2 separate regions of the Homo sapiens genome follow, and region 1 is linked to region 2. Evidence: fine-mapped expression QTL. A gene starts in region 2. The other region holds a variant in brackets. All regions are shown on one strand. Distances are between the middles of the regions. Region 1 has its middle 45 kb from the start of UBR2. Region 2 holds the start of UBR2 (ubiquitin protein ligase E3 component n-recognin 2).

The links. PIP is the estimated chance that this variant, and not a neighbour inherited with it, causes the effect.
Region 1: its variant is fine-mapped to the expression of UBR2 in whole blood (INTERVAL, PIP above 0.99).

What each region holds. Positions count from the first base shown.
Region 1 is chr6:42,511,396-42,527,494 of GRCh38, forward strand. No RefSeq gene overlaps it. Among named protein-coding and RNA genes, the nearest start is that of UBR2, 45 kb to the right of the region's middle. The variant CTTTTTTTT/C (reference allele first, on the strand shown) is at 7,696.
Region 2 is chr6:42,555,175-42,571,273 of GRCh38, forward strand. It overlaps UBR2 (ubiquitin protein ligase E3 component n-recognin 2), which reads left to right and starts at 8,855. Exons shown (of 47, transcript NM_001363705.2): 1 at 8,855-9,223. The coding sequence starts at 9,146. RefSeq lists enhancers at 8,417-8,496, 8,567-9,086 and a silencer at 10,119-10,248.

The sequences.
Region 1 (16,099 bases), 44 kb before region 2:
AGGCGTGAGCCACCGCTCCTGGCTACTGAGTTCTTATATATGTGTTTGGTATTTACTACCTCATTTAATAGGCATGTCATTGTTCTCATTTTACAGACAAGAGAAGGACACTTAAAGAGTTTACCAAAGCCATAGAAAAAATAACCATGGACTCCAGGATTTAAACCCAGGTCTGTCCCCAGAGCCTGAGCTTTTAACCACCATTGAGGTCCTAGCATCAGGACCGAGTCAACGAAACTACTGTGGAAGTAGGCCCAGTTCTAGCACAAATGCAGAGAAGATGTGGAATAAAGTATAATCCAAATAAATCTCCAGGTGCTAGGAATGAAGAGAACCATCAAAGGCAGAGCAGCTAGCTGAGCTGATGTCATAGTAGCCCAGAAGAATATGGATCTGGAGTTAGGGCCGGGGGCTAATACCTGTGAGAGGACAGGAGGAAGGCAGCGAGCCCTGCATAAAATTGAAGGCCTTGAGCTGGCATGGTGGCACATGCCTGTAGTCCTAGCCACTTGGGAGGCTGAAGCAGGAGGACCGCTTGAGCCCAGGGGTTTGAGGCCAGTCTGGGCAACATAGTGAGACTCCGTATCTTAAAATAAATAAATAAATAAATAAATAAATAAATAAGGCCTTGTGGCACTCTTCCCCCCTTAAATGGAGATAGAAAAACTGGACATGGGCCCTGGGAATCAGCCAGGAAGCTCACCATTTGTTTAAGGTCTGGAACATGAGGGGGAAAATGTCATCCAGAGAAACCTAAACCCTGGGCCTATGCCATGTGCATAGGAGTGAGGGCCATTGACACACTCAGCATTCTGGCAGAAGCAAATGTGTGAATCATCTCCGCGGAGAAAATGTTACTACTCAAGAGTTTCAAGGATTCCCATTGGGAGAAACAACCTGCTGAAGACAAGTTCACAATAAAAAATTACAAACACCCTACTATGCTGGTGAGAGTCAAATCCTGTCTAAGATTTAAAGAGTGAAAAATAGGTTGGACTGGAAAAAGAAAGAAAAGAAAAAGCAACTGTCAATTCAAGCCAGAAAGAAGACAGACATAAAGAAAGCCAGCTGCAAAGTTCACAGGAACATTGCTTCCCCCAAAGTCAGTCGGCAGCTGTAAAATGCCATAAAGACCCCCTCTTTGAACGTTGACTGCTTTCCTACCAAACTCCCAGACAGCTTTGCCATACCCACCTATTGCTGGTTAGCCCATTGCTGAGCTACTGCTGCCTCATGGCAGCACCCAATACCTACTTAATCCCCACTTCTCTTAACTGACCCCACCCCCAACCAGAGTAGGAGCAACCAATCCAGAACTGATGCCTACTTCCCTTAGAATCTTCAGAATCCTTCAGCAGCTTCCTGTCTTCCCTCTTTGGAGCGACACTCCACATTTCCCCCGGAGTGGCCTCCCTTGCTGGACTGAGTTAATAACTAATTTGGTCAGACTACAGACTGGCTCCTGATGCTCCGTGGTGATTAGATTTTTATCAGTAGAGAGTTAGCATATGCAACAAACAGAAAAATTGGCACTTAACCAAAAGTCAATAGAGAATCTAGAGGATGCTATAAATAATAAGTTGACTTTAAATGATTAAAGAAATGATGGTGATAATGATAATGATAGCAAACATATAATGCTGTTCTAAGGGCTTCACAAAATATTAACTCATTCAATCCTCACAAAGTTCCTGTGAAGTAGGTACTATTGCTTTCTCTCTTTTACAGATGAGATATTAGGAAATTTGCTCATGGTTACCACAAGCTATTAGAGTGGCAGAGCTGAGATTTGAACCCACGCAGTTTAGTTCCAGAGCATATGCAACTAATCACTATAAATTAAAAAGCAACAGGACACTATTAAATAAAAGTAGGCCAATTTGAAGGAAGAACCAAATCAAACTTCCAGAAATGAAAAATAGAGTCACTCATTCATTCATTCGTCAAATATTTATTGAGCTCATATAATGTGCCAGACACACAGAGGCTCTGAGGATATTGCAGTGAACAAACCAGACAAAAATCCTTGTCCTAGTAGAGTTTACTTCTTTTTTTTTGGGGATGGTGTCTCGCTCTGTCACCCAGGCTGGAGTGCAATGGCACAATCTCGGCTCACTGCAACCTCCGCCTCCCAGGTTCAAGCGATTCTCCTGCCTCAGCTTCCTGAGTAGCTGGGATTACAGACGTGTGCCACCACACCCGGCTAATTTTTGTATTTTTAGTAGAGACGGGGTTTTGCCATTTTGGCCAGGCTAGCCTCAAACTCCTGACCTCAGGTAATCTGCCTGCCTCGGCCTCCCAAAGTGCTGGGATTACAGGCATGAGCCACCATGCCTGGCAGAGTTTACATTTTAATGAAGAAGACACAATAAATATAATGCGTAGCATGTTAGGTAGGGCTAAGTGCTACACAGAAAAAATAAAGTAGGGAAGGGGGATATGAAACATCAAAAAGGGGGTTAAGGCCATGTGTGGCGATGCGCACCTGTAGTCTCAGCTACTGGGGAGGCTGAGGTGGGAGGATCACTTGAGCCTGGGAGGTCGAGGCTGCAGGTGCCACTGCACTCCAGCACTCCAGCCCGGGTGACAGAGTGAGACCCTGTCTCAAAAAAAAAAAAAGAAAAAAGAAAACAGAGGAGACGGGGCGGTTGAAATTTTAGATAGGGCGTCTGAGAAAGCCTCACTGAGAAAGTGATTTTTATTCCACTCCTGAAAAAGTGAGAGAGCAAGCCAAATTGGTATATGGGGAAGAACTTTTCAGGCAGAGGAAGCAGCCAGAACAAAGGGCCTGAGTGGGGAACCTGCCTGGTGTTTTTAAGTCACAGCAAGGAGCCTTGCTTGCTGTGTGGATAGAAGTAGAGTGTGTGTGTGTGTGTGTGTGTGTGTGTGTGTGAGAGAGCGAGAGAGAAAGTAATGGGAGATGAGTTCATGACATAACAGGGGGCCAAATCATGCAGGGGCTTGCAGGCCACACTGAAGACTTTGGTTTTACTCCAATGACAAGGGAGCCACTGGTGGGTTCTGAGCAGAGGGACATAAGGATCTGACTAAATTTCACAGCATCACTCTGGCAGCCATATTGAGAATAAAGTGTAGGTAGACCAGCCAGGAGACTACTGCAATAATCCAGGCAAGAAATGATGGTGACTTGGACCAGATCTATTTTTAGGTAAAACCCATAAGATTTCCAGTATTTGCAGTGTTAGACAAAGAGGAGTTAAAGGTTTTTAAACTGAGCATCTGTAATATCTGAGTACCACCTGTAATCTCATTAACTGAGATAGGAAAAATGGCAGGGTTTGGGAATGAAGATCAGGAGCTCCATACTTCCAAGTGGAGATATCTCCTAGCCAGCTAGGTATAGGGGTCTGGAGTTTAGGGGGGAAATCTGAACTAAAGACATAAATTTGAAAATTATCAGCATGTCTGTGGTATTTGAAGTCATAAGACTCATGACTTCATCTGGAAAGTGGTTGAGATTGTAAAAAAGAGAAGAGGTCCAAGGACTGAGCCCTGGGGATTTCATCATTAGGAAGTAAGGAAGATGAAGAGGAACCAGCAAATGAGACTGAAACAGAACACCCAGAAATACAGGAAGAAAACCAGGTGACAATGGTGTCTTCAAAGCCAGATGAAGGAAGTTATTAAGGTGTAAAAGCCAATAGATGGGTTAAACAGAAAATTAGGCCCAGATGAAGACAAAATTAGTAAATTCAAAGTTAGAAGACAACGGAAAATTTAAAAAGAGTGATTAAGAGAAATGGAGGAAAAAGAGATTCAACATGCATTTAGTGAGCATCCCTGCAGAAAAGAAGAGGGAATATGAAAAAAGCAATCTTTAAAGAGGAGAATATCTAAGAATTTTCTATAATAAAATTTAAAAAGATGTGAGTGTTGTCGGCTGGTGGGTTGGTTTCCCTGGGAAGTAGACTGGGACACAGATTAGCACACAGGAGGCTTATCAGGGAGTGCTCTTGGGATCAGCACCAGTGTCGGGGGTGGAAGCAGGACTGGGCAGAGGGAGAGGGTGAGTTATGATGGAGTCTCAACTAAGACTTCAGCCACCTCATGAAAAGAATGACCTGGTTTGCCCAGGACTTGGAAGTTTCCTAGGATGTGGAAATTTCAATGCTAAAGCCAGGATAGTCTCTGGCAAACTAGGATGAGTTGATCATCCTACCACGGGGAACTCTGAGACGAACATGGAACTTTAGAATTGTCCACCATGGGGATGAGAAGACTGGTTCTTTGTAGTCCTGCATCAACCAATCACTGGATGCAGCCTGTCTCCAGGAAGTAGTGTGACCCTGTGAGTAAAGCAGCACTATTCAGCCGAGAGCAATTCCTGTAGAGGACTGACATTTCTGACATTTGAGCATTGTCTTCTAGAAGCAGCCCCAGCTCCCAGTACCCAGCATCTGGAGGATTAGGTCCTTTGGTCTGGAAGAGAGATTTGGGTAGTGCAGGATTACATCTGCCATAATGAGTCTTTCTTTTGACAGTTCTCAAAAGAAGATGTACAAATGGCCAAAAAACATATGAAAAAATACTGAACATCACTAATTATCAGGGAAATGCAAATCAAAGCCACAGTGTGATACCACCTTACTCCTACAAGAATGGCTATAATTTAAAAAATTAAAAAATAATAGATGTTGGCATGGATGTGGTGAAAAGGGAACGCTTTTACACTGCTGGTGGGAAAGTAAACTAGTTCAACCACTATGGAAAACAGTATGGAGTTTCCTTAAAGGACTAAAAGTAGATCTACCTTTTGATCCAGAAATCTCACTACTGGGTATCTACCCGGAGGAAAATACATCATTATATGAAAAAGACACTTGTACAAACGTTTATAGCAGCACAATTTGCAATTGCAAAAATATGGAACCAGCCCAAATGCCCACCTATCAACAAGCAAATAAAGAAAATGTTAAATATATATATATAATGTATGTATGTATACACGCACCATGGACTACTACTCAGCCATAAAAAGGAACAAAATAATGGCATTTGCAGCAACTTGGATGGAGTTGCAGACCATTATTCTAAGTGAAGTAACTCAGGAATGGACATTGTATGTTCTCATTTGTAAATGGGAGCTAAACTATGAGGATGCAAAAGCATAAGAACAATACAATGGACTTTGGGGACCGGGGGAAGGAAGGGAGGGCGTGAGGGATAAAAGACTACACATTGGGTACAGTGTACACTGCTCAGGTGATGGATGCACCAAAATCTCAGAAATCACCACTAAAGAGCTTATCTATGTAACCAAATATCCCTGGTTCCCCCCCAAAACCTATTGAAATTAAAAACAAGAAGAAGACTTGAAAGGATCAAACTGTGTTTTAGTAATTTAACTCTGTCCCAGAGCAAAGCTTGAGACATTTATAAGAATATGAAAACATCCAGCATCTAACAAGGTAAAATACACAATGTCTGACATCCAATCAAAACTTACTAGGTATGCAAAGAAGTAGGAAATTATAATCCATAACAGTGAGAAAAATCAATTAATAGAACCATATTGAGAAACAGCACAGATGACAGAATTAGTAAATAAGAACATTGAAAGTTATTGTAAGTATATTTCACATGATTGAGAAGCTAGAGGAAAGACTGAGCATGTTAAGTAGAGACATGGAAGACATAAAAAAGGCCCAAATTGAACCCCTAGAGATGAAAACCATAATGTCTGAGATAAAATGTCACTGTGTGGCCTGAACAGCAGATTAGACACTACAGGAGTTAATAGAACTCATCAGAAAGATTTAACAATCAGAACCACCATGTACCTAAGAGTAAAGCCTTAAAGTCAAAGTGTATTAAGCAGAAATTAACAGATCCAAAGGAGAATTTGATAACTTCACAATCATAGTGGAAGATTTTAGTATTGCTTTATCAATATTTGATAGTAAAAAAGTGAGATTTTAAATAAAATATATACTTTTAAACATTTTAAATAAAAATCCAAAGTAAGCACAAATTGGCATTGAAGGTCTACAACCTCATGTACTGAGACATTTGTCATCTACCATGAGCTACTTTAGGGCAGGAACTGTGTCCTGTTTAGGATTGAATCTCCAGGGCCCAGCATGGGGCCTGACACTTTTTAGATTATCAATAAGTAAATACTTATACATTCTAAATAATAAGTGAATTCTAAATAAGTAGCTAAAGCATTAGTAAGTCTACAGAAGAATTAAATGGGCAGTTAAACAGTTTGAATTAATGGAGATGTATACAACTGTACCCAATAGCAAATAGAGCATACATATTTATTTCAAAAACATGAGAACAACTAAAATAGTCAACCATACAGTAACCATTAGACAATGAAAATTTTGCTGTCATCCAGTTGCAGGCGACTCTAACTGTAACTGATGTTTTCTTGCTATATAAGCAGTGAATTCAGATACTTTTAATGGTTCTTGCAAGTATAGTTATTTTATTTTCTGGGAAGTTGAGGAGGGGGCAACACTTCCTTCCTCCCATTCTTCATGCTGACAAGCTAATATCACTTCATAATCAGACAATAAAAACAAAAATCTTGATACAAGGACCTGACAGAACAGCAAGAAGCGATGTGGAACTCAATACAGCAGGTCCAAGAAGTGACTTAACAAAATCTCACAATCAGAGAATGTTAGAATTCAGCCCAAATCTCTGTATTGATCATCACCTTATTGAGAAGACGAGATATGAACTGTAAAATTATACTATACTGATTGTATAATAAACGGACATTCAGTTTTCAGCTCATATGTTGTTTCTATAAACTCCCCTGTCAAAAAGTGCATTCAAGTACATACTGCTATAGTTAGATATCTGGGTTGATTGAGCCCTATCTGATGATAGGCAGGACTCTCATGCCCAAGGAGATGAAATGAAATAGACATCAGTCTCATGGAAGATTTCTTCTTTTTTTATAACAGTTTTATTGAAATGTAATTCATACGCCATACAGTTCATCCATTTAAAATGTACGATATGATGTTTTTAGTATATTCACAGAGTTTTAAATCATCAACACAATCAATTTTAGAATATTTTCATTACCCCTGAAAGAAATTTTGTACCCATTTGTCCCATTAGCCATCATTCTTCATTGCCCACAACCCTAGGCAAACACTAATCTACTTTGCGTCTCTATAGATTTGCCTATTCTGCATATTTCATATAAATAGAATAATATACTATGTGGTCTTTGTGATTGGCTTCTTTCACTGAACATTTTCAAGGTTCATCCATGTTGCAGCAGGTATCAGTACTTCATTCCTTTTTATCAAATAATAGCCTGTTGTATAGATAATACCGCATGTTATTTATCCATTAATCAATTGATAGACATTTGAGTTGTTCCTACTTTTCAGCTATTATGAATAGTGTTGCTACAAGGAATTCCTGTATAAGTTCTTGTGGAGACATAGGTTTTCATTTCTTTGGGTTGTATAGCTAGTAGTGAAATTGCTGGGTCATATGATAAACCTATGTTTCACACTTTGAGGAAATGCCAGATTGTTTTCCAAAGCAGCTGCACCATTTGACATTCTCATCAGCAGTGCAGAGTTCCAATTTCCCCACATCCTTGTCAATATTTGTTATTATGTCTTTTTAAATTATAGCTATCCTATTTCATTGTGGTCTAAATATTGCTTTAATGGGAGCTTCTTATTCTTTTTCTGTTTC[CTTTTTTTT/C]TTTTTTTTTTTTTTTTTTTGAGACAGGATTTTGCTCTGTCACCCAGGCTGAAATACAGTGGTGTAATCACGGCTCACTGCAGCCTTGACCTGCAGGATTCAAGTGATCTTCCCACCTCAGCCTCCCAAATAACTGGGATTGCAGGCATGCACCACCACACATGGCTGACTTTGTTTTTTTTTTTTTTTGAGAAGGAGTCTCACTGTGTTGCCAGGCTGGAGTGCAGTGGTGCAATCTCGCCTCACTGCAACCTCCACCTCCCTCCGCCTCCTAGGTTCGAGTGGTTCTCCTGCCTCAGCCTCCGAGTAGCTAAGACCATAGGCACACGCCACCATGCCCAACTAATTTTTTTTTTTTTTTTAGTAGAGACGGTGTTTCACCATGTTGGCCAGGATGGTCTTGATCTCTTGACCTCGTGATCTACCCACCTTGGCCTCCCAAAGTGCTGGGATTACAAGTGTGAGCCACTGCACCAGCCCTCCTAGCTAATTTTTAAATTTTTTGTAGAGACTGGGTCTTGCTATATTGCTTAAACTGGTCTTGAACTCCTAGGCTCAAGCAATCCTCCTGCATCAAGCCTCCCAAAGTGCTGGAATTGCACGCATAAGACACTGTGCCAAGCCAATGGGGCTTCTTTCTGATTGAGTGTTCTGCAAAATAATTGAATGTTTTTAATTACTTTATATAATATGTACTTTATTAACTTTGTTTACTCACAAAAATAATCAGATTTGTTATATAAAAAGTGTTTGGTTTTCTACTACTGTATAACAAACTATCCCATAATGTAGGGGTTTAAAACAACAACCATTTTATTCTCTTGCTATTCTGTAGGTTGACTGGGCTCTGCTGGATGGTTCTTCTGCTCTATGTGATGTTGGCTGGGGCTGCAGTCACCTGGGAGTACTACTGTACAGGAAAATCCAAGCTATCTCTCTTACGTGTCTGGTACCTTGGCAGTGATGGCTGGAAGGCTGGACTCAGATGGGGTACTTGAGCCGCTAGGATTTTTTCTATTTCTACATAGTCTCAAGGCCTCTGTCTTTCCACATGGCCTTCCCAGCAGAGGAGGTGGACTTCATACCTGGCAGCACAGAGCTCCCAAAAGTGCAAAAAGGGAGACTTTGAGACTTTTCTAAGGCTTTGGCCTGGAACTGATGTAAGTATCACTTCTACCATGTTTTATTGGTTAAAGTGAATCTGGGCCAGTCTAGATTCCATGTGGGAGGGGACTACAGAATGGCAGGAGTCATAGGAGGCATGGATCCTTGGGGGCCACCTTTGGAGACTAGCTACCAGAAACAACACTATCAACAACAACAAAAGAAAACAACAACAACAAAAAATAGCCAGGCACATTGGTTCATGCCTGTAGTCCCAGCTACTCAGGAGACTGAGGTGGGAGGATCTCTCAAGCCTGGAAGATTGAGGCTGCAGTGAGCCACGATCATGCCACTGCATTCCAGCCTAAGTGACAGTGACACACTGTCTGAGAAAAACATTAAGGATAACTTTTGAGCACATTATTATTGTTAGTTATTGATTTTACCAAGAAACTAATGGATAGCATCTATTATGCCTGAATAAGGAGTTTTTGTGTCCTTTGCAATGCTGAAGACTGTTGTACACATCTCCTATTAGCTTGTTTTAAGCCAGAGCTTAATTTTTAATAATTCAGTGATGAATCTTATTTAATCTCTTAAACCTCTTGCCTAATTCTCTTTTACATTATGGGATTAAACACATTAAAAAGAAGATATGGCCAAACAATGACTCACTCTTCTTTCAACGAGATCCCCAAAGGCAGATAGACTAGAAGAAATGTGGCAGAAGTGAATGAAATACACAAGTCGAAACTCAGATATAAATCATCAGAGGCTCAGTCTATTGACTCCAACTTCCCCTTTCTTTCATGGCACAAAAATTAGTCTTAAAGGTTTGCAAATGCTACTCACTGCTGTACTTGCCACAAAATATTCCATATTGCGGCTGACATTACTAACTCACCGTCACAAACTATTTGCTTTGAGCTTTCTCTAACAGTAGGGAGAGGTCACACTGAGTCATCTACACTCTCACTCAGTCCCCTGAGAACCCTCAGGAGATTCATTTGCTTGATGGCTGGGCAGGATTAGCAATGTAGGGATGGTGGCTGTAGAGTGGGACCTTGGGCTGGTGGACCGTGTGCTCTTTGGGCCCAGGGCTGTATTAGGCTGAGGAGACTGAAGGAAGAGGCTGAACTCAGACTGGTTGAATGGAGCCCAATCAGGTCAATTTACTATACGGAACCCAGACATGGTGATATTGATGGAGCTCTGTGTTCTCACTCACTCACTTCCTGATTCTGCCTGGGCTGGTGAAGTGCATTGTGATGGGGTGGGGCTGGAAGGGTCCCTGCTCTGGGGCCACCTGTGTTTTGCTTCTTCTTAATAAGATCTGGAAAGTTCCCCCACTTTTACACTATGTTCCTTCCAATCACCAGCCTTGTGGGGAGGGTTGGGGAAATAAAATAGGAGCATCCCTTATGCCATGATTAAGGGGTGCTAAATAAAGCCCCCCTCTCTGAAAAAACCTGCCATATGGCTCAAGATACCTCCAGGACAACCTCCTTTGAGGCCAGGCATTGAAAGCAGCTGCAAAAAACCAAATGAAGTGGGGTACAATGGCACATGCCTGTAGTCCCAGCTACTCAGGAGGTTGAGGTGGGAGGATCACTTGAGTCCAGGAGTTCAAAGCTGTAGTGCTCTATGATTGCACCTGTCAGTAACCACTACTCTCTAGCCTAGGCAACATAGTGAGACGCCATCTCTAAAAAAAAAGAAAAAAAAGCAAATGAGGTTTGGGTGATCTTACATATACACCTATTCTCTGTCATTAACACTTTATCAATTCGGTTTATCAGACTTGCCCAGTGAAACATCTGAACTCTGGAAAAAGCACTCTAGACTGTATACTTTTACTGCAACCTCAGGTCCCAGATTTCAACCTTGAGAATTCTGCATATTTCTGCCAATGATAATTACAACTGTTGTACTGGAACTTTGTGTAGAAAGTATCAAAATACGATGATATCAAAATGAAACAGTCCATTCTTTACAGCCCACATTCCTTGGCTGGTTCAGAAGCTGCATTCTTTTTACTGTAAGAAAGCAAAAGCCAAACCAAAATTGGTGGGGGGTGGGGGGAGGGTGCATATTTAAAAACTGTGACCTCTCAGTGAGCTAAACCAGGACAGAAAAGTGAGAAGGATCATAAAGACTTCAGGGTAGGCCAAGTGCGGTGGCTCACACCTGTAATACCAGCACTTTGGGAGGCCAAGGCAGGCAGATTACTTGAGCTCAGGAGTTTGAGACCAGCCCGGGCAACATGGTGAAATCCCATCTCTACCAAAAATACAAAAAAATTAGCTGAGCATGGTGGTGCACATCTATAGTTCCAGCTACCTGGGAGGCTGAGATCAGAGGATCACTTGAACCTGGGAGGCAAAGGTTGCAGTGAGTCAAGATTGTGCCACTGCATTACAGCCTGGATGGCAGAGTGAGACCCCATTTCAAAAAAAAAAAAAAGCAGATTATATGGTGTAAGTTCATGTCTTTGTACATGTGCCCACCTCCCTGTTCCCACTCCTCCTTTTTTTCCACCTCTCATCCCCCAACTCCTGTGTCCTAGGCAGGCCTGGCTTTCCGAATTCACTTTCACTCCAGCCAGCCATTGCGATTGGCAGCCTGATCTATGGAGTGCAGGTGCATCCTAGTCTGACCTCCAGCCATGTGTTAAGCCAAGCAGGACAGGCTCTGCCCCAGCAGGGGTGGAAGATGGCACTTTGGAGGGTAAGTTCAAAACAGAAGAGTAACGGCAAGCCCACTCGACAACCATACCACATACTTCAATCTAGCTTTGTAACGAAGCCAACATTTTAATCTCCAAAAATGTAAAAATATAAAATAACAATAATTTCTAAAAAGAATCCTAAGAATCCAAATGGGGGAGGAGACATACTCCTCTATACTGCCCCTCCCCTGCATCTAGAGTTGCTTTCGGTTCCATCTACCAGTTTTCTGGAGTTCCCTGCCAGAGGCTCAGGGCTTATGGGGAGAGATCCTTAGGGTATTCCTTTTCCTTTTTATTTTTTAAAGAATTGTGATCTCACTATGTTGCCCAGTGTTCTCAAACTCCCGGACTCAAGGAATCATCCCACTTCAGCCTGCTGAGTAGCTGGGACTAGAGGCACGCACCACCACGCCAGGCTTCCTAGGGTGTTTCTGACTCAGCCTTTACCGACAGCCTTGCTCAGGCTATGGAACTATTCATCTGTGCATGCATATGAGCTGCATCCCCACTCCTTTACACTCTCAAAAAAGAGCACCCTCCATATCTCCCACAACAGTGAATATATAAATTCTTGACACCAATTGAACAAGTGTTTCTGTGTCAGACACCAGGAAGGGTACTGAGGTTACAGAAATAAAAGACAATCCATGAATTTTTTGGATGATCTCACAAACAAGTCATGTAAATGACTATTACACCATGTATAATAGTGTATTATTCTATAGAATATTCTATATATAGAATTTAAATAATATTTAAATTATTTAATTTAATTTATTATTATTTATAATTTTTTTAAATGCAGTATAATATTTATAATTATTTATAAAAAATTAAATTATTCTATATTCTATATAGAATTATTCTATATTTTATATAGAATTATTCTATATATTATTCTATATTCTATATAGAATTATTCTACATATTACTCTATATTCTATATAGAATAATTCTACATATTACTCTATATTCTATATAGAATAATTCTATATATTACTCTATATTCTATATAGAATAATTCTATATATTATTCCATATTCTATATAGAATAATTCTATATATTATTCCATATTCTATATAGAATAATTCTATATATTATTCCATATTCTATATAGAATAATTCTATATATTATTCCATATTCTATATAGAATAATTCTATATATTATTCCATATTCTATATAGAATAATTCTATATATTATTCCATATTCTATATAGAATAATTCTATATATTATTCCATATTCTATATAGAATAATTCTATATATTATTCCATATTCTATATAGAATAATTCTATATAGAATAATTCTATATATTATTCCATATCCTATATAGAATAATTCTATATATTATTCCATATCCTATATAGAATAATTCTATATATTATTCCATATCCTATATAGAATAATTCTATATATTATTCCATATCCTATATAGAATAATTCTATATATTATTCCATATCCTATATAGAATAATTCTATATATTATTCCATATCCTATATAGAATAATTCTATATATTATTCTATATAATATACAGCAGTGTATTCACGCTGCTGTAAAGATACTACCTGAGACTGGGTAACTTATAAAGGAAAGAGGTTTAATTGACTCACAGTTCTGCATGGCTAGGGAAGCCTCAGGAAACCTACAATCACGGCGGAAGGGGAAGCAAGGCACTTTCTTCACAAGGTAGCAGGACAGAGAGCAAGCAAGAGCAGGAAAAACTGCCTCATTATACCATTGGATCTCATGAGAACTCACTATCACAAGAACTTCATGGGGGAAACCACCCCCATGATCCAATCACCTTCCTCCCTCAACACGTGGGGATTACAATTCGAGATGTGATCTGGTTGGGGGACACAGAGCCAAACCATATCACACTATATGCTGAATTCTAGAATAGAGGTGCAATGGGTCGTGAGCACATAGAAGAGGAATTGTTTGACTCCATCTAGGGAAGGGAGGGGTTCAAAGCTTCTTATATAATGCTTTGGCTGCAAAGAACAGTGCCCAATTACAGTGGCCTAAGTAGTAAAGATATTTGCTATCTTACATATAAGAAGTATGGAGCTGAGAAGTCCAGGGTTAGTGTAGAATGCCATTAAGAACCAGGCTCCTTTTGTCCTGTGCATGACGGGAGAATCATTTTACTTTAAATCTCTTTATTTAAATCATTTTATTTTAAATCTTCTTCATTGTGAATTTAATATGAGCATTTCATGCTCATATTCATCATTTCTGATTCAGCAGTTCTGAATTTTTTCAGTAGATAAAATACATTTCAGGGTTTTAAAAATGTGATTAACTTACTCAGGCCAAATATGTTTACTTATCCTACGCATGTGACGCAGTACCTTTCAGTTCTGCAGTCATGACTGTACATTCCTTGATTGTCCCAAGAGTTGCTGAGTTTACCTTTATAACAACCGTTTTAGAGTCCAGAGGTAATTTCTCTCCAGCTCTAATAAAAATGACAAACTAGGTCAACTTCATTTGTCTTTGAAGTATGTTAGGAAGAAAAGGCAAGGTTGCAATTTTTTAAACTGTATTTATTTGTTTGATTACATGAGAGTAATACGTCTGTGTTCTAGAAGGTGTGGGCAATAAAGGAGGTTATGCAAGTTGGAAGTAGGAAGAAGGACAAAGGGGGCCTCCTGGAGTTGTGCAGTGCGCAACCTATGAGGCCATATGTGACAACCTTATTCTGAACACAGAGCACAGAAATAAAAATGCCCCATGACTCTACCTCCCAACAACAATATTAACATTTTGCTAAATTCAGCCCTTCTTCTAGGTATATAGTATGTTTAAATGATGTTATAATGTATAACTGCTTTATAACCTCTTTCACTTATAATTCATTATAAAAATTTTAAATACTTAAATATTCTTAAAAATATCATTCTCAATGGCACCATGTTTTATTGTTTTGTTTTGTTTGTTTGAGAACAGAGTCTCACTCTGTTACCCAGGCTGCAGTGCAGTGGTGCCATCTCAACTCACTGCAACCTCTGCCTCCCTGGTTCAAGCGATTCTCATGCCTCAGCCTCCTGAGTAGCTGGGACTACAGGTGCATGCCACCACGCCTGGCTAGTTTTTGTATTTTTTTGTAGAGACAGGATTTCGCCCTGTTGGCCAGGCTGGTCTCAGATTCCTGGTCTCAAATGATCCACCCACCTCGGCCTCCTGAAGTGCTGAGATTACAGGCATGAGCCACTGGGCCTGGCCTATTTTTTCATCCAACAAACACTTGTATGGTATTTTTATGTGAGCCAATATTTTAAGCTCATTAAAATATTAACTTGGCCAGACACAGTGGCTCACCCCTATAATCCCAGCACTTCGGGAGGCTGAGATGAATGGATTGCTTGAGCCCAGGAGTTCGAGACCAGCCAGGGCAACATGGTGAAACCCCACCTCTACAAAAAATACCAAGATTGGCCAGGCATGGCGGCATATGCCTGTAGCCCAGCTACTTGAGAGGCTGAGGTGAGAGGATCGTTTGAGCCCAGGAAATTGAGGCTGCAGTGAGCCATGCTCATGCCACTGCAGTCCAGCCTAGGCTACAGAGTGAGACCTCATCTCTAAAATAATAATAATAATTAACTCATGCGATCCTGCAGAGATATCTTTGTTTGCCCCTCCAGATGCCTCTATCCCCTCTCACCCTGCTCTGTGCCCTGGAAGGCTGATCTGAATAGACGGCAACAACAGGCTCTGTGACGTCTCCTTCTTCGGGTTTGCCCAGTGAGAGCTGTGGTAGTTTGGATTATCATTCCCAACTCTGTAATCTCTCCCTGTGTTAGGATTTTCCATGAAAGTATATGGAATATAAATATCTATTCCATTTATTTTAGGATCAGTCACATGACACACTTTGGCCAATGGGATGTTTGTAGACACCCTGAGCAGAGGACTGGAATGGAGTTTCCTTGGGTTGGCCTCTTGGCCACTCTCTCCAAAATGAGAGGCCCATGAAGCAGACCTGAATCTGACCCAAAGCCTGAAGCAGAGCAGGCCCAGTCAACTCAGAAGGAAGAAAAACAAATGTTTGTAGTTTGTAGCCACTGAGGTTTGTGGGTTGTTTGCATATACCATTATTGCAATCAGGGAGTGTAATTACAGGTATCTCAGGAGACAGGAGACTGGATGGTAATGTCAAGGTATGTATGAAGGGTCACAGGGCTGCTGGGTCCTTTCTTCAAAGCCACAGCTTCTCCTCTCCACGTCTCTCCACACCTCTCTCTCTCCAGGTTCCAAGACTACTCAAGTGCTCCCTAGGACACCCTGCTGTTGCCTCAATAGAATCTCTTTATTAGATTATACTTGAATTACCCAGTTTGAGAGTGTCTTCTGTTTCCTGCCTAAACTCTGAATGACAAAAAAAAAAATCCTCATAATCATCTTGTTATATAGGTACTATTATCCCATTTTACTAACAACAAAATTGAAAATCAGAGAGGTTAAGTAACTTGTACAAGGTCACGCAGCTAGTAAGTGGCAGAATTGAGATTTGAACCCAGGCAGGCTGGAATCATGCTCACTTCACTATGCCTC
Region 2 (16,099 bases):
AAATACAAAAATTTAGCATGCATGGTCGTGGACGCCTGTAATCTCAGATACTTGGGTGGCTTGGGGCCAAAGAATTGCTTGAACCCAGGAGGTAGAGGTTGCAGTGAGCCAAGATTGCACCACAGCACTCTAGCCTGGGCAACAGAGCAAGCTGGAAGAGAGAGAGAGAGAGAGAGAAGGAAGGAAGGACAGGAGAAGAGAAACCCAACTAATTAGTTTAGGACCAGTCCAGAAGAAGGGAGACTGGGTTTTGGCCTAACATACACAAGCTTGGTTATTTTAATTAGGAAATAAATAATTTGCCTAGAAGTAGGCCTGTAGGGGGAACAGCCTGTCTTGGGACGAACATGAGCCTTGGAGTTGGTGAGACCAGATTTCAAATGCCAGTTGAGCTGCTGATCTAACAATGCAACTGAATTGATTAGCTACTGGTACATACAAAATCACCTCAAAGTTTAGTGGCTTAAAACAACAAGCATTTATTTAGATTACAATTCTGCAGGTCAGCAATTTAGGCCAGTGCTCCTGGTCTCCCTGGCCTCTCTCACCTGCCTCTGAGGCAGGAGAATAGGGTTTGGAGGTAGAGAACCTAAGGCAGATTCACACTGACTTCCTAGAACTAAATCAAAAGGAAAACCGCAGTTGCAGTGAGCTGAGATGGTACCACTGTACTCCAGCCTGGGTGAACCCCAACTTTCCACACCCAAGTAACAAATGATCAGAGGCTACTCCCTTTGCAAGCCTCTCCTCCCTGCTACCCCACCCTGTTTTCTGCCTGGCAGATGAAAAACTGAAAGTACCTCTGATTGGTCCCCTCCTGGAACCAATCAGGCTGGTCAAGGGCCAAGTCTTCATTTGCATAGAAGTATAACTTTGTAACTTCAGCCTCTGATTGGTCACTTTTCGCAACCAATCAGACATTTGCATAGGGTGTAACTTGGCAACTTCAGTCTCTGGTTGCATTTACCTAGGGTGTATACCAAGTAACCAATGGGAAACCTCCAGAGGGTATTTAAACCCCAGAAAATTCTGTAACCAAGCCCTTCAGCTGCTTGCTCTAGCTGCTCCCACCCTATGGAGTGTGATTTTTTGTTTCAATAAATCTGTTTTTGTTGCTTCATTCTTGCTTTGTGTATTTTGTCCAATTCTTTGTTCAAAGCACCAAGAACCCAGACACTCTCTACCGGTAACACCTTAAGCTATCCACAGGTCAGCTAAATGATTTTGCTTTTGGGAGCTGGCTGGCTGTCAGCTAGATGCCTCTGTTCTCTTCCATATGATCTCTCATCCCCAAGTGGGCTATCCTGGACTTGTTCACATGGAGAAAGCAGGGGAGTCCTAGAGAGGGTTGAAGCGTCCAAGGCCATATTTAGGGATCTAGGTTTAGAACTGTATACTGTCATTTCTGCCACATTGTATTCACTAAAGCAATCATAAGGCCAGCCCAGATTCAAGGGGTGGTAAAACAGTTCCCACTTCTTGATAGAAAGAGTGGCTGAGTCACATTACAAAGGGAGTGGAGGCAGGAATGTCGTTAATTAGGGCCATAAAACTGCAATCTACCACGGTGACTGTGGCCAAGTTACTTTGCCTTTATGAGTCTCAGTTTCTTTTTTTTTTTTTTTTTTTTGAGACAGAGCCTCACTCTGTCACCCAGGCTGGAGTGCAGTGGCACGATCTTGGGCTCACTGCAACCTCCGCCTCCTGAGTTCAAGTGATTCTCCTGCCTCAGCCTCCCAAGTAGTGGAATTACAGACACCTGCCACCATTTCTGTATTTTTAGTAGAGACAGGGTTTCACCATGTTGATCAGGCTGGTCTTGAACTCCTGACCTCAAGTGATGCACCTGCCTTGGCCTCCCAAAGTGCTGGGATTACAGGCCTGAGCCACCACGCCCAGTCTATTTCATGAAGTCTTAACTGAAAATAATAACACATATCTGAAACAATTTTACTAAGGAATAGGAATAATATACCTATGCCTATTACTAGTGAGCATAGCATTTATTAGTTTATCTGAAACTTGTTGGCTAAAAGTTGCAGCTATCTTACTGTTCTTGATTCAAGTCAAGTTCATTTCACCCTCAGGGCCTTTGCAATTGCTGTTTCTTTTTGCCTGGAATGCTCTCATTTCAGATTTTCACATGATGGGTTCTTCTCACTCAGTACTCAGCTCAACTCCCCACTTCTCATGCACATCTCGCTGACCAACCTATCTAATGCCCTTACCTCCGTTTTCACCTTCACCTTCTGTATAATATTTATTGCCTTTTAACACTTGTCAATATCTAAAAATTATATAGTATATTCTTTAGCTTACTTTTTTATTTTTGAGACAGGGTCTTGCTTTGTTGCCCAGGCTATAGTGCAGTGGCATGATCCTGACTCACTGCAACCTCCGCCTCCTGGGCTCAAGCAATCCCCCCACCTCAGCCTCCTGAGTAGCTGGGGCTACAAGTGTGTGCCACCATGCCTGGCTAATGTTTGCATTTTTTGTAGAGACAGGGTTTCACTATGTTGCCCAGGCTGGTCTTGAACTCCTGAGTTCAAGCAATCCTCTTACTTTGGCCTTCCAAAATGCTGGGATTATTCAGGCATGAGCCACCACACCCAGCCCAGCTTATTTTTTTATTGCTTGTCTCTCCCACTAAAATGCAAGCTCTGTGAAAGCAGTAGCCTTGCCTGTTACGTTTATTGATGTATATCCCAGAAACAAAAGTGTAATTGGTACTTAGCAGGAGTGCAAAAATATTTGTTCAATGAATTTCTTAGCTAATTGATGGAAGAATAAATATGGCACTAGGTTGGGCTCTGAGGAAATGGCATATAGATTGGTTACTTTTGTAGGGGGAGAAATAGGAGGTTGAGTAAAGATTTGAAGTTTGAGAACATAACTAGGTCCAGTGAGAGGCCACAGTAGAGAGCCTTACACAGAGAGGGGACTCTGAATGCCTGTGAGTGACAAGGGGTACCCAAATAGGCCTTTTTCATAGTCCTGTAGACTCTGAGCCTCACTCTGCACCTTTTGCCCTTTTATCATTTACATTATTCCTTTTGACTTAGCACATTCCTTGTAGGAATTTATCCATTGGCTATACTTAAAAGGATTTTGGCAAGCTATATGAACAAGGGATTTCATTCGATTTTTTTGTTTGTTTGTTTGTTTTTTTGAGACAGAGTCTCACTCTGTCATCCAGGCTGGAGTGTAGTGGGATCTTGGCTCACTGTAGCCTTGACCTCCTGGACTCAAGTGATCCTCCTGCCTCAGCCTCCCATGCAGCTGGGACCACACATGTGAATCACCACAACTGACTAATTTTTTTATATTTTGTAGAGACAGGGTCTCACTTCGTTGCCCAGGCTCGTCTCGAACTGTTAGGCTCAAGTGATTGTCCCATCTTGGGCTCCTGAAGTGTTGGGATTACAGGTGTGAGCCACTGCACCTGGCCAAAAGGAACATTTAAGAACAAAAAAGTTCTCTTAGAAATTTAAATTGTGAAAACTCTGAATAAGAGGAGTCCCAGAGAGAACAAATAAAATAAATGGGAAGAAGTTATCAAGGAATAATTTCAAAAAAATTTCCAAGAACTGGACATGAGTGTCCAGACGGAAAGAGCCCTTCCATAGCCAGCACAATGGTTTTAAGTAGAAATAACGTTATGGCAAGTCATTGGGAAATTTTAGAGCAACAGGAACAAAGAAAGAATCCTTTACTTCCAGGAGAAAACGCAAAGACTCCAGAATCAGAATGGCACTGGATGCCTTATCCTTTAAAATGTTCATATAAGATTATGTTTATTATATTTTCACCCAATATTTCTAGGTATTTGTGTTGAGAATGGTGGTGCCATATTTCCTGAATAGCTAAAATGTGAGTTCCATGAAGGCAGGGATCCCCTTTTTTCACACATGTATCCATGTTCCTAGAACAATGTCTGAAATGTATTGAGTACTCCATAAATAGTTGTTAAATGAATACATAAAACAGAAACTCATATTGATGTTTTACCCAATAATGATTCTTTTCTTTCTTTCTTTTTTTTTTTTTTGAGACAGAGTTTCGCTCTTGTCACCCAGGCTGGAGTGTAATGGCGTGATCTTGACTCACGGCAACCTCCACCTCCCAGGTTCAAGCAATTCTGCTGCCTCAGCTTCCCAAGTAGCTGGGATTCAGGTGCCTGCCACCACGCCCAGCTAATTTTTGTATTTTTAGTAGAGCAGGTTTTCACCATGTTGGACAGACTGCTCTTAAACTCCTGACCTCAGGCTATCTGCCCGCCTCAGCCTCCCAAAGTGCTGAGATTACAGGCATGAGCTACCGTGCCTGGCCTGCATCATAATGTATTTAACCTTATTGATGAACTCAGTGTCTCTTTCCAATGCTTCAGGTGATTTAAATAATACTGAATTATGGCCAAGAGCCGTGGCTCACACCTGTGATCCCAGCACTTTGGGAGGCCAATGAGGGCGGATGACTTGAGGTCAGGAGTTCCAGACCAGCTTGGCCAACATGGTGAAGCCCTGTCTCTACTGAAAAAAAAAAAACAAAAATTAGTTAATTAGTTGGGTGTGGTGGCAGGTGGCTGTAATCCCAGCTACTCAGGAGGCTGAGACAGAAGAATCACTTGAACCTGGGAAGTGGAGGTTGGAGTGAGCTGAGATCATGCCACCCCACTCCAGCCTGTATGACAGAATGAGACTCTCTATTTAAAAAAAAAAAAAAAAAAAGAAAGAAAAAAAATTGAGTGAAATTCCTTGGTGACAGAGTGAAACTTTGTCTCAAAAACAAACAAATAAACAAACAAAAACTCCTTTTCCCTAGCCTCCTGTACTTCTTTCTTGGATATAAAATCTTTGCTTATCTCCTCCAGTGTTTTTAATAACATTTGTAAAAGTTCTTTCCAACTTTCTGACTTGTGTCTGTTTCTTCCTTCGTCATTTTTGTTTTAGTCTCTCTTCCATAGGCTTTGCTCAAGTATCTGTACACAACCGCCTGTCTTCATATTTAAGAATGACTTACTAAAAATATGATTAGAAGTTTTATGCATGGGTGGGGTGAACTGACTATACCATTTTGTTGGGGTCTTATCCTCTACAGAATTTTTTTTTTTTTTTTGAGATGGAGTTTCACTCTTGTTACCCAGGCTGGAGTGTAGTGGCACAATCTCGGCTCACTGCAACCTCCACCTCCTGGATTCAAGCGACTCTCATGCTTCAATCTCCCGAGTAGCTGGGATTACAGGTGCCCACCACCATGCCCAGCTTTTTTTGTATTTTTAGTAGAGACAGGGTTTCATCATGTTGGCCAGGCTGGTCTTGAACTCTTGACCTCAGGTGATCCACCCGCCTCGGCCTCCCAAAGTGCTGGGATTACAGGCATGACCTCTACAGATTTTTTTGGTGGTGAGATAATCTACCCCTCTGGAGAAGACCCTCCCAAACTCTTGCCTGGGAGGTATAAGCCTGGCCACTAAGGTTCTCAGAGCCAAATGGGGAAATAAGCTAGGTTATCCCTGTTCACTATGTAGACTTTGATTCATCTCTCTTGAATGCAGTGCGGTATCCCTGTCCTCAGCTGTGTCTGGTGTCTCCCAGTCAAAAGGCCCTCAAGTGTAGTCACTCTAGAGGATAAAGCTCTAGTCTTCTTCCAGAGTAGGAAGTGAGATCTAACTTCTTGCTATACAGACTTTCAAACAATAAGCTTGCTTTTAGCATTGTCTTCACCCACTTTCAGAGTTACATGGTGCCTCAAATTTTTAAGTCTTTCAGGGTACTGCATATTAATTAGCTTGACTCAGTGTCTCTACTGCTAGCGGAGGTTTCAGCATTCTCTTAGTTACTTCTCAACCACTTGCTTTCCACCAAATTTTGGTGCTGTCATCCTCTCTTCTTTTCTTTTTTTCTCCCTTTACTGTCATGAGGTATTCAATCTGCCACATTTAACTGGAAGTTGGGGCTTAGCTCTTAATGCCCCCATGGGAACAGAAAACAAGACCCTGGGTCAAAGAAACATTGGAATTGCAACTGAGATCCTCTACATAAAGCCAGGGCTTTCAAAGGAATGTCGTATCAGTGAAAGGGTAGACTAGACAAAAAACCCACCAACTGGCATACAAAAATGACAAAGAAGCTCTTTACCTTGACTCTGAGTAGGAAAAAGAACTCTCCTTAAAAATTCATAGACAGGCCGGGCACTGTGGTTCACACCTGTAATCCCAGCACTTTGGGAGGCTGAGGTGGGTGGAACACCTGAGGTCAGGAGTTTGAGACCAGCCTGACCAACATGGTGAAACCCTGTCTCTACTAAAAATACAAAAATTAGTCAGGCATGATGGTACGTGCCTATAATCCCAGCTACTTAGAAGGTAACTATGCTCACCACTATACCACCAACGCATCTAATCCCAGCTACCTAGGAGGCTGAGGTAGGAGAATCGCTTGAATCCGGGAGGCAGAGGTTGCAGTGAGTCAAGATTGCACCATTGCACTCCAGCCTGGACAACAAAGTGAGACTCTGTCTCAAAAAAACAAAAATTATAGACAGAGAAATGGCACACAACTGAATTAATACTATTAGGGAATCTTCAAGCCTAGAAACTGACGTACAATTGGTCCTAGATACAGGATACTCCTAGAGTGCCTGGTCCTGAGTATACGATGTTTTCTAGGTTGTCTGGCCTTGCAGAAGCAAATGAAAAAGTATTTTGAAAGTATTAATACATGGAGAGTCCCACTGCTAATGCTACTAATGCTAAGTGAAGATGATCTCCAAATTCATAATTATGACACACAAGGGAAACAATTTTTTTTTGAGTCAGGCTCTCATTCTTTCACCCAGGTTAGAGTTCAGTGATACAGTCATAGCTCACTACAGGCTTGAACTCCTAGGCTCAAGTGATCTTTCCTGTCTCAGCCTCCCAAAGTAGCTAGGACTACAGACATGGGCCACCATGTTCGGCTAATTTTTAAATTTTTTTGTAGAGATGGGGTCTTGCTATGTTGCCCAGGCTGGTCTCAAACTCCTGGCCTCAAGTTATCCTCCAATCTTGGCCTCCCAAAGTTTTGGTATTACAGGTGTGAGCCACAATGCTCGGCCTGAAACAAATAATGTTAGGAAGCAAATAATGTTAAGAACAGAAATTGCCTTTACAGTCTATTAACGACTTAAATTCTATGTTAGGACAGCTCAAGAGATGTTGTTTTTGCTTCTAGGCTGGGACAATCCCAGTTTTCTTCCAAGTTGACTCTGTCCTGAGTGGATCAGTGTAAGGAAGTTGGGCAAAAAAAGAAAAATACATAGAAGAATATTTCAAGATATCTCATTATAAATATCTGTACAGATATGTGCATACTTTTTTCTGGACAGACTCATAAGACAGTGTCAAAAATGATTTTCTTTGGGGAGAGGGACTTGGGGTAAGAGGAATAGGAAGTTTTCAATTTTCCTTTTTTAAAACATTCCTTTCGAGTTTGAATTTCTGATGTTTTATATGTATATATATATATAACTTTTAAAAAGTGATAAGAAGGCTTACTTGTATTGTGAGGTTACAGGGATACAGGCAGTTTCTTATTTCCTTTTTTAAAAAACTGGTTAATATCATAGTATTGGTTTAAAAAAAATCCCAAAACAACATAAACATAAACATGTCCTAAACCTGGTCTGGCTCAGAACTTTTCCCCCCTATATGTAATTTACAACCTACTTCTGGGAATAAATTAACACACTTGACAAAAGGTATAAACAATTTTCTGACAAACTCTAGAGACTGAAGACTTCTAAGAAGCCCAGTCACCCAGCTGTCAGTCAAGAGTCTAATTACCTTTAACTAAACATAGTTTTCTTTGATAGCTAGTCTAACAATGTTTACCTATTTCTTTTTTTTTTTTTTCCTTCTTTTTTGATACAGGGTCTCAGCTGTGTCACGCAGGCTGGAGTGCAGTGGGCTGATCACAGCTCACGATGGCCTCAACTGCCTGGGCTCAAGCAATCCTCCTGCCTCAGCTTCCCGAGTAGCTGGGACTACAGGCGTGCCACCACACCTGGCTAATTTTTTGATTTTTATCAAGAGGGTCTCGCTATGTTGTCCAAACTGGTCTCAAACTCCTGGGCTCAAGTAGTCTGCCCCCCTCGGCCTCCCAAAGTGCTGGAATTACAGGCATGAGCCACCAAGCTTGGTCTGATTATCTGTAGAAATTAAATGTCTCTATCAAGAGGAAATCTTTTAATTGGCCTAATAGACTCTTTTTCCTTTGCAGCAAGATTTGTGATAAAGTTTATAAGTGGTCATCACTAAAGTTTTTGAAAAATTTTTTAAAACATGTTTTAAACCTTCAAAAAAGTGGGTAATGTTCACCTCCATTACTCGTATAAAAGATATGGGTTCGATGGATGACAGGACATAGAACCACAGGAATAGAATGTAATTCATTCATTCCTTTGACAAGTATTTGAGTGCCTACCCTATGCCAGACTGGCAAGTCCTTGAGGGTCTACCATGTGCCAGGCAGTGTTCTTGAAGCTGGGGATACAAAAATGAACAAACGAGATTCGGAGAATAAAACTACAGTTCCCACAGTATCTTTCTCTTTGGCTTTTTTCCAGGGGGCGCTGCTTTCCGCGACTGTCTTCCCATGATTCTCGTTGGGCAGAAAAGCCCCGCCCGCTTATCTGCCATTTAAGCCAGCGCCCCTTGAGAATGGACTACAACTCCCACAATGCATTCGAGGGGCACCGTGTTAGGGCGCCACCTTTTTCCCGGCTGTGCTGTACCTACAGCACCCAGAACTACAGTACCCAGAAAGCTCCGCTTCCCCTCCTGGGTGTTATTGCCCCTTTCCTGGTGCAGGACGCGGTAGTGGCCAGCGAGAGTGTCAGGCCTGGGGTTTTCTGTGTCCTTCCCTGGGTCAGGGACGAGCCAGTGACTTGACTCTTGGGCGCTAAGCTTGGGAGGGAGCGCAGGAGGCCGCTGTCCTTCCTTTCCGGTTCACGTCACCCTTCTCTCCCTCTGTTGCTCCACCTGCAGCCACTTGGACGGCTCCGGGACTGATTGCCTGGGGCAGGGGTGGCAGTCGAGGCCGCCGGGGCCGAGGTGAGGCTGCAGCTCTCCGGGCGGCGGTAGCGCTGGGGAGGAGGAGGAGAGAAGATGGCGTCGGAGCTAGAGCCAGAGGTGCAGGCCATCGACCGGAGCTTGCTGGAATGTTCGGCCGAGGAGATTGCGGGGGTGAGTGCCGGAACCCGGGCGGGTGCGTCTGCCCCTCGCAGGCCGCGCCTGTGGGGAGGAACCGACTCCTGGACGTCCTGGAGCAGCCCGACCCAGACTTGGGGAAACAGCTGTGCCGGCCCTCGCCTTGTGGGGTAATAGCCCGGGGAGGCCACCGATCCTGCCCCTCTCTTTCCATTTTCAACAGCTGCCAGAGCTGCGCTGTGCACTAACTACGTTTACTTTCCCTTTCTGCCCAGGAGAACCCACGGCTCTTCCATCATACCTCCTTTCCCCCAGCCTCCCATTAAGTCTCCCAACACATGGGCCTTTGCCCTTTATATCAGCTCTTGGAAGAGGAGAAGAGACGCTTCTTGTGTTTTTGGTATAATCGCCCTAGTTTATCTAGTTAATTGCTTTTCCTGAGACAAGCGAAGCCGTGTGCTCCTCCGACTAAACATGCCACCCTAACCGAGCCCCTCTTTTGTTTTTGGGACTGCCCCAGGCACCAAGAAGGCAAACGACACTACCCTTCGTTATCCGTTTCAGTGCTATCTTTTTTTTTTGCACCGGTTTGATTAGTTGACAACGTTGATGCATGTGTGGAAAGTTTACTGAGTATGAGAAAGTAGTCGTGGAGTCTGGGAAATTTTAAAAATATTTTTTCTAGGAGTTAGGGGTAATTGGATGGAGAACAAATGTTATATAACGTTGATAGAGCAGCTTTCAACAAATACTGTATAAGCTAAACGTGAGAACTGGTCACAGTGTAGTAGGAGCAGTTATATTCCAAACGTAAAACCGTTCAAACGCACTATTGCATTAAAACTGTAATATGAATATGCTAGTGTAAATAGCAGAGTTGTAGGAACACCCATTAGAAGAGATTGCCGAGAATGATTATGAATGGACCAAGACAGCTTGGGCCCCACCTCTAAGACCTCCAATTAAAAAGGCTGCTAGGAAGGGAGTGACCCGTGAATAAAAGTCAGCAATCTGAATGCTACGAACAAAATTTGGGATTGGGGGCACTGTGGAGCTGTTGGTCAGTGAGTAGTTATTTTGCGTGAATTGGTGAGGACATTAAGTCCGGGTAGAAAGAAATGTCAGGAGTAGAGGTGAAGACTTTAAAGAAATACGTTGTTAAATGCTGAATCTTTGCTTGTTTGGGTGTGTTTTGTTGTTGTTTGTTTTTGTTTTTGAGACGGAGTTTCGCTTTCGATGCCCAGGCTGGAGTGCAGTGGCGCGATCTCAGCTCACCGCAACCTCAGTCTCCCGGGTTCAAGCGATTCTGCTGCCTCAGCCCCTCGAGTAGCTGGGATTACAGGCATGCACCACCACGCCCGGCTAATTTTGTATTTTTAGTAGAGTTGGGGTTTCTCCATGTTGGTCAGGGTGGTCTCAAACTCCCGACCTCAGGTGATCCACCTGTTTGGGCCTCCCAAAGTGCTGGGATTACAGGCGTGAGCCACTGCGCCCTGCCTTGGTGTGTTTTTTTAAACCTACTTACTTGTTTAGCCTAGGTCTGTTTTCATTTACTTTCTACTTAATGTTGTACAACTCAAGGAATTTCTGCCTTTCGTTTATCGGAGATTTGAAAAAAGAAAATGAAAGTAGTGTTACAAGTAAACTGTTAAATAATAATGACAGCTGTTTGCTCTCCATGCCTCTTCTAATTGATATCTGTTGCTTACCTCAAAGTACTGTTTTGATTTTTTTTCTCTCACTGAATTTTGTGTCTTGGTCCAGTGATACAGGGTACAAATTCCGTTATCCCATTCTAAAAGTGCAAACTATCAAGTGATTAGAGGTTCTCCAATTTGTAGAGGCTCCTGAGGAAACTGGTTATAAAAGTAGTGCGGGAGGCCAGTGCTCCTAGTTCTTGTTCAGTGAAATTCTCAAGCAGATGCAGTAAGGAAAAATCAAGGAAAATGCAACAAAAAATTATTAATTTGGACTTCATTTGAGTTTGTGAAGATCATAATCTGAGCTACATTTTACCCTGTTTACTTTTTTTGTTTGTTTTTTTGAGACAGTCTTGCTCTGTCGCCAGGCTGGAGTGCAATGGCGCAATCTTGGCTTACTGCAACCTCCGCCTCCGGGGTTCAAGTGATTCTCCTGCCTCAGCCTCCCGAATTACAGCTGGGATTACAGGCGTACGCCACCACGCCTGACTAATTTTTGTATTTTTAGTAGACACAGGGTTTCACCACATTGGCCAGGATGGTCTCGAACTCCTGACCTCAGGTTATCCGTCCGCCTTGGCCTCCCAAAGTCCTGGGATTACAGGCGTGAGCCACCGCACACAGCCTACCCTGTTTACTTTTAAATGCCTTTCTGAACAATAAGTTTTTTTTTTTCTTTTTTTGGTAAGAGATGGGGTCTTGCACTGTTGCCCAGACTAGAGTATAGTGACATTATCATAGCTCACTGCAGCCTTGACCTCCTAGGCTCAAGAGATCCTCCTACCTCAAAAACCAATATTAAAATATAAAATTCCTTCAACTATATAACCTTAATCTTGCCTTACTTTGTGAGGACTTTACTGTCTGTATTAAGTTAAAACACCTAACATTTAAAACTGTTTTTTTCAGCTTAGGCTTCAGCTTTTTTATCACACATTTAAATTAATAAAGTTTTTTCTTAGGTTGAAAGCACATTTTAGGGAAGAGAAACAAGTAGAGAAAACAGTGATTGTAGGCTTTAGACCTCTGTCATTGGTAATTTGTTAGGATCACTTCCATTTAAAAATCACCTAATGAGCACTAGTGTCAACCTTTCCACATTTCATTTACACACCGCTTTTCTTATTCCTGTTATAAGGAGGAAGAACTTTTTGTGATCCCATCCATTCCAGCTAGTATGCCTCACAAAGAAAAGTATCTAAGCTGACTCTTTAATATTTGTAAGTTTAGGATATTACAGTGGCCCTCTCTTCTCATTCTTCTCTTTTCTTGTTAGAATTGACTCCATAAGTATGACTTTCCCAACACTTCTTGGCTCTGTTTACTTTCTATACTACATATGGTTATAGTATGTTCCAGTGAGTGATTACGGTTTTAAAAGTAAACATGCCGGGTGTGGTGGCTCTTGCCTGTAATCCCAGCACTTTGGGAGGCCAAGGAGGGCAGATCACAAGGTCAAGAGATAGAGACCATCCTGGCCAACATGGTGAAACCCTGTCTCTACTAAAAATACAAAAATTAACCGGGCATGGTGGTGCACCCCTGTAATCCCAGCTATTCGGGAGGCTGAGGCAGGAGAGTTGCTTGAACCCAGGAGGCTGGGGTTGCAGTGAGCCGAGATCGCGCCACTGCACTCCAGCCTGGGTGACAGAGCGGGACCCCATCTTTTTCCCTGAATATAAAAGAAATACAGGTTGGGAGCACTGGCTCATGCCAGTAATCCCAGCTATTTGGGAGGCTGAGGTGGGAGGACTGCTTAAGTCTAAGAGTTTGAGACCAGCCTGGGCAACATTAGCTATACCCTGTCTCTACTAAAAAAAAATAAAATAAAATAAATAAGCTGGGTGTGGTGGCATGAACTTGCAGTCCTAGCTACTCAGAAGGCTAAGCAGGGAGGATCGCTTGAGCCCAGGTGTTAGAAGTTACAGTGAGCTATGATCATGCCACTGTACTCCATCTTGGGTGATACAGTGAGACCCTGTCTTCAAAAAAAATTTTGTTTTAATAAATAATGAATTTGTTAAGTTTTATGTAGAGTTTTAGGTCTGTATTGGTTATCTTTTTGCTGTACATTTTTTAAACCGTTTTATTGAGATATAACTCACATACTGTACAGTTAAATTCAGTGGTTTTTAGTATATTCAGATTCATGCAATCATCACTATGATCAATTTTGGGACATTTTTATCACCCCAAAAAAGAAATCCTGTACCTATTGGCAGTCACTTCCCTTTCACACCTAAACTCCTGAGGTCTAATCAACTACTAATTTTTGTCTGTGTAGATTTGCCTATTCTGGATATTTCGTATAAATGGAATTCAACATATTGTCATTTGTGGCTGACTTCTTTCTCTTAGATAATGTTTTAAATATTTATCCATGTTGGGCCAGGCGCGGTGGCTCACACCTGTAATTCCAGCACTTTGGGAGGCCAAGGCAGGTAGATCACAAGGTCAGGAGATCGAGACCATCCTGGCTAACACGGTGAAACTCCGTCTCTACTAAAAAATACAAAAAATTAGCCGGGCGTGGTGGCAGGCGCCTGTGGTCCCAGCTACTTGGGAGGCTGAGGCAGGAGAATGGCATGAACCCGGGAGGCGGAGCTTGCAGTGAGTCAAGATCGCGCCACTGCACTCCAGCCTGGGCAACAGAGCGAGACTCTGTCTCAAAAAAAAAATAATAAAAATAAAATATTTATCCATGTTGTACCATGTACAGGTTGAGTATTGTTACGCTTGCCACCAGAAGTGTTTTGGATTTTGGATTTTTTTGGATTTTAAAATATTTGCAGTTATACCAGTTGAGCATCCTTAATCCAAAATCCAAATGTTCCAATGAGCACTTCTTTGAGCATCGTGTGGGCATGCAAAGTTTCAGATTTTGGATCATTTTGGATTTCACGTTTTCAAATTAGGGATGCTCAACCTGTGTCAGTAATTCTTTCTTTTTTATTGCCAAATGACATTCCTTTGTATAGATAAACCATATATTATTTATCTGTTCATCAGTTGGTGAATATTTGGGTTGTTTCTACTTTTTGGGTATTATGAATCATGTTGCTGTGAACATTTTTTACAAATTTTTGTGGGGACATATGCTTTTGTTTCTCTTGGGTATATACATACCTAGAAGTGAAATTGGTGGGTCATATGTTAACTATTTTGAAGAACTGCCAGATTTTTCCAAAGCAGTTGCATTGTTTTACATTCCCACCAGTAGTGCATGAGAGTTCCAATTTCTCCAGATCCTTGCCAACACTTGTTTTTGCCTGTGTTTTGATTACAGCCATTCTTTTGGGTGTTATGCCTTCTCATTGTGGTTTTGATTTGCATTTCCCTCATGAGTCATGTTGGAACATCTTTTTATGAGCTTATTGGCCATTTTTATGTCTTCTTTGCCTATTTTCAATTAGTCTTTTGACCTATTAAATTTCTATATTTTATTTGTAAATATTCTCCTTAATTTGTAGAGCTCTTAATATAATTTGTTTAAAATTTTTCTCAATATATTCCCTAAAACTCCCACTTAAACACTATTGTTTTTATGGTTATGAGCACTAGTTGTTTTATGATTAACTTACATGTTGCTTATCCTTGTTTGAAAGCAAAACCAAAAGTAGTTAAAGGATACAATTTTAATTGGGTATAGAATAATAGAGACTGTAATAAAAGGCTAACTAACCTCTAGGGATTCTTTCATTTTTCATTTCATTTTTATTTTATTGTACTTGCTTTCTATCCCAAGGCTTAAATTTAGTATTTAATAGAGGGAAAGCTCCTGGAAACATTGTCATAACATGTTTACTTTAGAGGAATGAGTTGACAGTTTCTTTACTTCCCTTAAGAGGGACTTGTAGTAAGATAGTGAATGCTTATTACTCTCTTATGCCACATGGGTGTGACAGCTACAAGTGTCTGAAATAAAGACAAAAGGCCAACCAAACTGGAAATCTTAATTTTTCATGTTGAAGAAACAGTTGCAGTTAGCATATGTTAGAACTAATATGAAAAGCTATAGATTTTATTCTTTGGGGAAATGTGTGAGCTACTTCTGAAAGACAGTCATAAATTTTTCTTGCTTTTTATATTAAGTATGTATGTTTAATCAGCTTAAAGTGCCTGTAATAGAGCCCAAATCTTTTAGGTGATTGTGATTTTTTCATATAATGGTAGTAAAGTTTTTGGTTTTGAGACGGAGTCTCACTCTGTCCTCCAGGCTGGAGTACAGTGGCGTGATCTAGGCTCACTGCAACCTCCACCTCCTGAGGTCAAGCGATTCTTTTGCCTCAGCCTCCCAAGTAGCTGGGATTACAGGCGTGCACCACCACTCCTGGCTAATTTTTGTATTTTTAGTAGAGATGGGGTTTCACCATGTTGGCCATGGTGGTCTCGAACTCCTGGCCTCAAGTGATCTGCCCACCTTGGCCTCCCAAAGTGCTGGGATTATAGGCGTGAGCCACTGTGCCCAGGAGTAGTAAAGATTTGAAAAATGGGGAGCATATGCATGCCTTTCTTGGACCAGACTTTTAAGTCTTGTTATTTATAATAATATGTAATAAAGAGTGAAATACTTGCTTGTTTTACTAATAATATTTTTATGTAAAGTGGCTAGTTTTTTTTTTGTTGTTTGTTTGTTTTTTGAGACAGGATCTCACTCTGTCACCCAGGCTGAAGTGCAGTGGCGTGATCATGCCTCACTGAAGCCTCAACCTCCGGGGCTCAGGTGATCCTCCCACCTCAGCCTCCTGAGTAGCTGGGACTACAGGCATGCACCACCATGCCCAGCTAATCTTCTTTTATTTTTAGAAGAGACAGGGTTTTGCCATATTGCCCAAGCTAGACTCGAACCTCTGAACTCAAATGAGCCACCCGCCTTGGCCTCCCAAGTGCTGGGATTACAGGCATGAGCCAAAGAGCCTGGCCGATTTTTTTTTTTTTTCTTAACCAGAAGCTGATACTAGCGTCTGAATTTTTGTTGAAGAAATCTATGAACAAATTTGCTCTCGTTACAGTTACTAGACTGCATAATTTTTTTTTAGAAAGCATCCATGCTAGCCTGTAGTCCCAGCTACTTGGGAGGCTGAGGCAGGAGAATGGCGTGAACCTGGGAGGCGGAGCTTTCAGTGAGCCGAGATCGCGCCACTGCACTCCAGCCTGGGTGACAGAGCAAGACTCCGTCTCAAAAAAAAAAAAAAAAAAAAAAAAGCATCCC